Linked DNA regions of Homo sapiens: region 2 is linked to region 1. Evidence: fine-mapped expression QTL. A gene starts in region 1. The other region holds a variant in brackets. All regions are shown on one strand. Distances are from middle to middle.

Region 1 (4,395 bases):
TTAAGTGGAAGTGAATCATCATAAAGGTCTCTATGCTTGTAGTCTTCATGTTGAGTAGGCTAAGGAGAAGGAGAAAGAGGAGGGGTTTTGTCTTGGTATCTCAGGGGTGGCAGAGGCAGAAGAAAATAAGTGTATAAGTGGACCCACACAGTTCAAACCCGTGCTGTTCAAAGGTCAACTGTACTTGATCTTATTTCATGTTTTGTTTTTGCCTCAAACTAATCTTAAATGAGAAGAAAACCCCTATGTATGTCCTTTGAGGTCAGATTGCATATATTCAGCCTATTAATGAAAATTAGCTTTACGCTAAAAGCACATTAGAAGCCTACACAGAGAAAATCAGCATCTACTGGGCAATATTGAATAGTAGTGAAGAGGCTGAGCTGGGAGTCAGGGAGATTTGAGTTTCTGTCTGGTCTCTGCCTATTGCTAGCTGTGTGATGCTAGGCAGATTGTTTAACATCTCTGAGCCTCACTCTCTGCATGTGTAAAATGGGGATAGCTACAATACCTGCATGAATATAAAATGAGACAATGTGGTAAGGCACTTCAGGAGCCTGGCAATCAATCAATGCATCTAGTGAGTTGATACATTTTATTATTTAAATTGTAGTCAGAAAGTTTGCCCTTGGATAAGGTAATCTCTCACTTCTTTTACATGTTTTCTACCAAGAGACCCTTACATCAACTGGATAGCAGAATTGAACTAGAGGGGAGATTAGCTCTGAACAACTTATCCAAGTCTGATGGACCTTAAAACCAGTATTGACTACATTTGCTGTAGCTGGCCTAGGTCTGCCCTACTTCCTATTGTCCAGCCCAAAAGGGGCTGGAGAACTCTAGAAAAATCACTCCCGTAGCAAACAAACAAACAACAAAAACAAAAACAAACACAATCAACATGACCCAGCCTTTAGCAACTGCTCCAGGAGCAGCTGTAAATAGATCCAGAGAACTTATCTGTTGCCCCTCACAGTGCCTGAACCAACATATACTCAGATAGAATAAGAAAAAATGGTGATCAACTGGTTGTCAAACCCGAGTACCTCTTACAGACAAGTAGAGTTCTGAGTTCTACAGTCTTCACTGCAGTGCCAGGGGAAATCAGCATTGCCATTCTTATTTTACAGGCAGAAAACCCCCGGCACCAAGGGATTAAACAATTTGTATTGGAATGAGATTTTACTAACTCCATAGAAAATGGACCTAAAATTTAAACATGGGTAAACCACATCCTTTATTTAAACAATATTTTACAGTCTACGATGAAAGAGTACTTAGAGATGGAATTTGCAGATTGGCTGTTCATGAGTTCACAGAAAAATTATGCAACTTTCCATTCATTCAGCAAACACGTATTCAGTTCACAGTGCTAGGCACTGTGACAGGCCCCAGAGATAAAAGCTCATCTAATAATATTACCTGCTCTCATGGAAAGCATAAGAGGACACACATGAAAGAAATAAAATGACATGGATACTGTGACAGTAACAAAAATCTGTATATGTTACAGTAAGAGCCCGAAGAGAAGACAAGTCCTGAAAGATCACTCTGTATTCGTTCTGCCCTGTGTCTGCTTGGCAACAGAGAGAATGCTAGCAAACACTGAAAGAGTTGCAATCCTTGCCAATTGCAAGCCCACAAACAGGTGAACATAATATAAGAAAGTGCTAGAAATCGTGACTGCATGTGAACATAGAATGCTATCTTTTGTGTCTAGTATCTGAAATGAGATTGTAATTATTTTCCAAATCTTCAAAAAATGGGCTTTGGAGTTTCCCACAATTTGACTTTTAAATCATAATTCTCTGCTAATGGTTATTTTGGCAAAGTAGAGCCTTATCACGGGGAGAGCCTAAAATCAACCCAGAGGTTAGACAGTTGGGAGAAGGATGGAGTTCCAGGACTTGTCAAAATTAAACACAGCTTTCAGCCCACTTATGCACTCTCTTCGTGAAACATTCTCTTGCATTGACTTTGGCAACGCCTATTTTCCTGGTTTCCTTCTAACTTACCAACATTCCTTCACAGTCTCTTTTGCTGACTCATTATCCTCTATCTTTAATAAGAGGTTTTTCAGGGCCCTTTTATTTTCTCACTATACTCTTTTCCTTGGCCATTGCCTCTTCAACCATGACTTCTATTACAATAGGAATGTCAATCACTTTCACCTGTCTTCAATTTAGATCTTTCCTCTAACACCCGGATATGTAATTCAACTCTTAACTTGATATCTCACTTGGAAGAGTTACAAGCCTCTCTGAAAAAAATCCATACAGGATGGAATGCATGGCATTTTCTCTGAAACTTCCTCCCTGTCCAGTGTTATCTACCTTGGAACGATTGTCTCATTTAGAGGGACTCTCTAACCTGAGTACACATTTGAAACATCTGAGGGCTTTGAAACATACCTGCTCCTGGACCACCTGCTGAACCAATTAAATCAGAATTTCTGTTGTGAAGATCTCCACGTGAGTTTAAGGTACGGCTAGGTTAAGAATTGCTGAATATGTCGCTCAACTTGGAAATCCGTTTGTCTTGATCTCTCCCTTTTCATTATCCTTTCATAGTCAACCACCTGTTGATATTTCATCTACTAAATAGCTCTTGACTCTGTTTTTATCATCAAAGCCATCACCAAGGTACCATCTTCGCTGGTCTGAAATAATCTTCTAACTGTTCTCATTGCCTCTAATCTTAGTTTATATCCATGCCATTGTCCACAATGCAGCCAGGGCGATTTAAATAAATCTGATCAATCACTTCCTTGCTTAAACATTGCACCGGCTTTCTGCTTGATTTTAAAATAAGCCACAGATACTTATGGCCTATACATATGTGAATATAGGGGTAGAGTTTTTGTTTGTTTGTTTTGGTCTGATCAGCAAATTTCCTCATCTCTACTCCTCTGGAACATATTTTCCTGACCCCCAACCTACCGGGTGGGCATATGATCAGGTCTCTTAGGGGTGCGGATGGTGATCCAAGCCTTCCGGGTTATCAAGGGCCCTCCTGCCTTACAATTTTGGGGACTAGAGTAGAAACAGCTTTGCCTCTGGTTTCATAGTGAAAGAGTACGAATTTGAAGCGCTTGGCAACCATCTTTCTCCCCCAACCTCACACGGTCAAACTCAGCACTCCTGACAACTGGGGGAAATCTTCTATGATGAATTAGTTATTTGAGGAATATTTTGTTTATTTTCCAGCTTTCCTGCTCAACTGTTAGTTCCATGAAGGCAACAGCCATGCCTGCTTCGTTCACTGAAATATCTTCGTTTCCTAACACACAGAAAGTCATCATTTTTTGACGGATGAAAGAATGGATGAATGCCTAGTCTTGGAGACATCTACTTGCAATAAAGGTTAGATGAAGGAAATGGATGCCAGTGGGAGATTTGTGGATCTATTTCACCAGATTTCACTCTGCTGACTCAGCAAAATGGTCCCCGAAGAAAGTATGTATGATATATGAATGCCTAGCCACCTGTCTTGGAACAAACAGGGATTTCTTTAGCTTTCTCCCACCAGGAGATGCTCCCCTGGCATTTTTCAATACTCCTCTTCCCTAAAAGGTAAAATTTACGTCCCGATAGTCACAGTGGGCTGCTTTATTGTACAATCTGACATCAGAATGGAAGGAGAGAGTATGCTTTTTAAGTTCCTTAAAATGCAGTTCTATTGAAAATAGCTGTTGAGACAAATAAAATAAGCTGCTAAGGAACAATAAGAGACATGATGGAGTTATAGAAATGTGTTATTGTGTTCCACCCAGAAAATATTATGCAATACAGGGATAAATTTATTCCTGAAGAATTTAAAAAATATTTATATAATCTTCTATGATTTTTGCTTCATAATGCAGTTAATTCACTAGGGCTTTTGCTGTTTGGATGTGGCCATTTGGTTTTGGTGGAAAATAGTTTGACATAGTCTAAAAAGCAAACTCTAAAAATGTATCTATTTTAATTATGAATACATTGTGACTCAGATTTATCCCATCTTTGAACTTCACCCCATCTCCAACTATGCTCCCCAGGGTAGGGATTAGGGCTGAGATGAAATAAGGGATGGGCCAATGACAAGGCGCGGGGAGGGAGGGTATGGAAATGAGGGCTCAAAAGGCTGGCAAACTACGTGGAAAGAGGAATCACATTTTTACCACACTTGCACATCTCAGACGGAGCCACCCATCATTCTAAGTCAGGAGGCTGCTTGTTTTCAGCGAATTCACTTGTATCACATGTACCTCAGTGTCTCAGATTTCTGTCTGAAATGATCATTGTTACTGTCATTTTCTTTTAGTTAATACATAGATGTGTTCATTTAATGGAGATACCCATTCTGTTTTTTTCATTTGAAAAATCTGTAGGATGAACACCCCTGTTTTAAGTTGAC
Region 2 (4,395 bases), 100 kb before region 1:
CCCTGCTCGCCGGCTGTCCCTTCCGTCGGACCTCCTTTACAATATCCACACTCTGCTCCCTGGCAGCACTGTCGCTCCCTTCTTGGCCCGGCAGCCGGGGCGCTGGAAGCGTACGGGTTCCTTTTAAAGTGCTGCTAGCGCGCACTCGCCCTCTCAGCGTTGCAAGAAAGGGGAGCGCGAGGGAGCTAAAGAGATGAAAGCCCGGGGTTGTACCTTGAGGGCTAACCACTCCCTTCCCCTATCCAACTTGTCTGGGAGAGCCCCCAGTGTCTCCGTGGCGCGTTCCCACTCTCTTGTCAAAACTCACAGAGGTCTCTCCGGAATCGTCTCTCACCCCTTCCCTGGGGATGAGCGGGCACGATCAGGCACTTTTGGCTGAATATTTCAAACTCATCGGCCACAATAAAATAAGCCCTCAAGCCACCCGGTTAGCTCCCAGACCACCTTCTCGGCTTCTGGACCCTGTCGCCCTCTGTCTTCGCCCAGCCCCTGCCTCTCACTTTCCCTCCCTCTGGCTCTGAACCAACTGGAAGTTGTGAAAGTTGGGCTCTGAGGGTGGAGGAAAAGGGAGAGAAGCTGAAGGTCTAAAGTGGAGAGCAATGCCATTTTAATTCTCCCTCCCCCACCCCTTTTCACCCCCTCAATGTTAACTGTTTATCCTTCAAGAAGCCACGCTGAGATCATGGCCCAGATAGCAGTTAGGACAAAAAAAGATTAACAGGATGGAGGCTATCTGATTTGGGGTTATTTGACTGTAAACAAGTTAGACCAAGTAATTACAGGGCAATTCTTACTTTCAGGCCGTGCATGGCTGCAGCTGGTGGGTGGGCGGGTGGTGTGAGGGAGAAGACACAAACTTGATCTTTCTGACCTGCTTTCCATCTTGCCCCTCCATTTCTAGCCCTAAATGCATATGCAGACACATCTCTATTTCTCCCTATTTATTGGTGTTTATTTATTCTTTAACCTTCCACTCCCCTCCCCCTCCCCAGAGACACCATGATTCCTGGTAACCGAATGCTGATGGTCGTTTTATTATGCCAAGTCCTGCTAGGAGGCGCGAGCCATGCTAGTTTGATACCTGAGACGGGGAAGAAAAAAGTCGCCGAGATTCAGGGCCACGCGGGAGGACGCCGCTCAGGGCAGAGCCATGAGCTCCTGCGGGACTTCGAGGCGACACTTCTGCAGATGTTTGGGCTGCGCCGCCGCCCGCAGCCTAGCAAGAGTGCCGTCATTCCGGACTACATGCGGGATCTTTACCGGCTTCAGTCTGGGGAGGAGGAGGAAGAGCAGATCCACAGCACTGGTCTTGAGTATCCTGAGCGCCCGGCCAGCCGGGCCAACACCGTGAGGAGCTTCCACCACGAAGGTCAGTCTCTTCCCCCAGTCTGCGTGGGGGAGGGCTGGTGGGACTGGCTAGAGGGGCAGTGAAAGCCCTGGGGAAGAAGAGTTCGGGTTACATCAAAGCCCCAGTCCAGGAGGCTGAGGAACAGAGCTGCTTACCTCCAAGAATTTGCAGAGCTGCCGCCGAACTTATTTTTTGGAGACAGAGGGGGAGGTGTTCAGGGGAAGGGGAATGACAGCACTCAGACGTGGGCTAGCCCCAGCGGTGTGTTTTTGCTATATCAAAGCCTTTTCTGCTAGGTTTTCTGCCCGTTTTTTTCAAAGCACCTACTGAATTTAATATTACAGCTGTGTGTTTGTCGGGTTTATTCAATAGGGGCCTTGTAATCCGATCTGAATGTTTCCTAGCGGATGTTTCTTTTCCAAAGTAAATCTGAGTTATTAATCCACCAGCATCATTACTGTGTTGGAATTTATTTTCCCCTCTGTAACATGATCAACAAGGCATGCTCTGTGTTTCCAAGATCGCTGGGGAAATGTTTAGTAACATACTCAATAGTGGAAGAGGGAGAGGGTGGTTGTCTGCATGTTTCCTCCTGCCTGTGCTCTGTTGGCCCCTCTTTTTCTTTACAACCACTTGTAAAGAAAACTGTGGACACAAAGCCAAGGTGGGGGGTTTAAAAGAGGAGTCTGATTGTGGTGCCATAGAGGAGTTGACACATAGAAATTATTAGACATATCAAGGAGGCTGGATATAGTTTCTGTCTTTGGTGCTTGAGAAATGCTAGCTACATTTTGCTGGTTTGTTAGCTGCCCCACTTATCTGCTCCTTCAAATTAAGGGGTATGCTTATTTTCCCCCAGTAGGTTTCCCCTGCATAAGCAGAATTCACCATTCATTGCCCAACCCTGAGCTATCTCTTGACTCTTCCATCTTTGAAAAAAGTTCATATGCTTTTTCTTTTCCCCTTCCTTCCTAACTGTGCCTAGAACATCTGGAGAACATCCCAGGGACCAGTGAAAACTCTGCTTTTCGTTTCCTCTTTAACCTCAGCAGCATCCCTGAGAACGAGG[T/C]GATCTCCTCTGCAGAGCTTCGGCTCTTCCGGGAGCAGGTGGACCAGGGCCCTGATTGGGAAAGGGGCTTCCACCGTATAAACATTTATGAGGTTATGAAGCCCCCAGCAGAAGTGGTGCCTGGGCACCTCATCACACGACTACTGGACACGAGACTGGTCCACCACAATGTGACACGGTGGGAAACTTTTGATGTGAGCCCTGCGGTCCTTCGCTGGACCCGGGAGAAGCAGCCAAACTATGGGCTAGCCATTGAGGTGACTCACCTCCATCAGACTCGGACCCACCAGGGCCAGCATGTCAGGATTAGCCGATCGTTACCTCAAGGGAGTGGGAATTGGGCCCAGCTCCGGCCCCTCCTGGTCACCTTTGGCCATGATGGCCGGGGCCATGCCTTGACCCGACGCCGGAGGGCCAAGCGTAGCCCTAAGCATCACTCACAGCGGGCCAGGAAGAAGAATAAGAACTGCCGGCGCCACTCGCTCTATGTGGACTTCAGCGATGTGGGCTGGAATGACTGGATTGTGGCCCCACCAGGCTACCAGGCCTTCTACTGCCATGGGGACTGCCCCTTTCCACTGGCTGACCACCTCAACTCAACCAACCATGCCATTGTGCAGACCCTGGTCAATTCTGTCAATTCCAGTATCCCCAAAGCCTGTTGTGTGCCCACTGAACTGAGTGCCATCTCCATGCTGTACCTGGATGAGTATGATAAGGTGGTACTGAAAAATTATCAGGAGATGGTAGTAGAGGGATGTGGGTGCCGCTGAGATCAGGCAGTCCTTGAGGATAGACAGATATACACACCACACACACACACCACATACACCACACACACACGTTCCCATCCACTCACCCACACACTACACAGACTGCTTCCTTATAGCTGGACTTTTATTTAAAAAAAAAAAAAAAAAAGGAAAAAATCCCTAAACATTCACCTTGACCTTATTTATGACTTTACGTGCAAATGTTTTGACCATATTGATCATATATTTTGACAAAATATATTTATAACTACGTATTAAAAGAAAAAAATAAAATGAGTCATTATTTTAAAGGTAAATCATGATTTTTTTTTTCTCCTTAATCCTTTCTCTTTTCCTTCGGGCTCATCTCTTTTGAATGAGGCTTTTTTCTGTTCAGGTGAGTTGGAGGCTGGATGGAAGTCAAAAGGTGGTACCTGGAGGTGGTTAAGTTGTAGGGACAGGAAGTAAACTGTTGGCAGAGAGAGATGGTAATTGCCAGCATGAATTGTTTTCTATTTCTATTTAATGTTAACAAGGATGCAGTATCCTCTCCCATCTGGATGACACATGCCTTGGAGAAACACTGGGATGAAAGGAGTGTAGGTCAGATTAAAGACTTCATTTCAGGCCCCTTGTACATCTTCTGTTTCACTCACCTGTTGAGGTGTATCACAGCTGAGCGTGATGAGGTCTCAACCCTAGAAAAATGATACCCACCTCTGCTTTCATGATACCTCAGGGTATCTCCAGTTATTACAGGTACCAATGTGATATTTCCAAATCAAAACTAATTTGTACACTAACATCATAATGTGTGTGTGAAGGCATGTTTTTAAACTTATTTTTTTTTTCTCCAGGTAGGACTCTTTTGTTTTTTCTTTTGTCTTTTTTTTTTTTTGAAACAAGTTCTCTCTTTGTTGCCCCAGGCTGGTCTTGAACTCCTGGGCTCAAGCAATCTTCTCATTTCGGCCTCTTTGGGATTACAGGCATGCACTGCTATTTTGTCTTTTTTTTTTTTTTTTGTAACAAATAATGTACCCTACCTTCAAAAAGTTTGATGACTACTGTTTTAATATGCCACTTGATAGAATTTCCCATTGTTTCTTGACTTTTTCCCTTGTCCTCTTTTCCCAATGTGAAGGCCTTCATCAAGTTTAGGATCCCAACAGATTGGGCTGGGTGGGGGTTGACAATGGGGTCAGATACTAAAGGGTCAGAATTTCTAA

Direction of the effects. Alleles are on the strand shown, and positions count from the first base shown. SD is a standard deviation of normalised expression in the study named.
As copies of T replace C in region 2, the expression in cerebellar hemisphere of the gene that starts at base 2,351 in region 1 goes down (moderate effect, 0.57 SD a copy in GTEx).

The links. PIP is the estimated chance that this variant, and not a neighbour inherited with it, causes the effect. A credible set is the group of variants that fine-mapping cannot tell apart.
Region 2: its variant is the best candidate, but not a certain one, in a credible set for the expression of LINC02331 in cerebellar hemisphere (GTEx, PIP 0.87).

What each region holds. Positions count from the first base shown.
Region 1 is chr14:53,848,782-53,853,176 of GRCh38, reverse strand. LINC02331 (long intergenic non-protein coding RNA 2331) reads left to right here and starts at 2,351. Exons shown (of 6, transcript NR_184221.1): 1 at 2,351-2,482; 2 at 3,207-3,362. RefSeq lists an enhancer at 1,893-3,092.
Region 2 is chr14:53,948,827-53,953,221 of GRCh38, reverse strand. It overlaps BMP4 (bone morphogenetic protein 4), which reads left to right. Exons shown (of 4, transcript NM_001202.6): 3 at 993-1,369; 4 at 2,334-3,486. The coding sequence starts at 1,000. The coding sequence ends at 3,190. Among named protein-coding and RNA genes, the nearest start is that of MIR5580, 2.5 kb to the right of the region's middle. The variant T/C (reference allele first, on the strand shown) is at 2,418.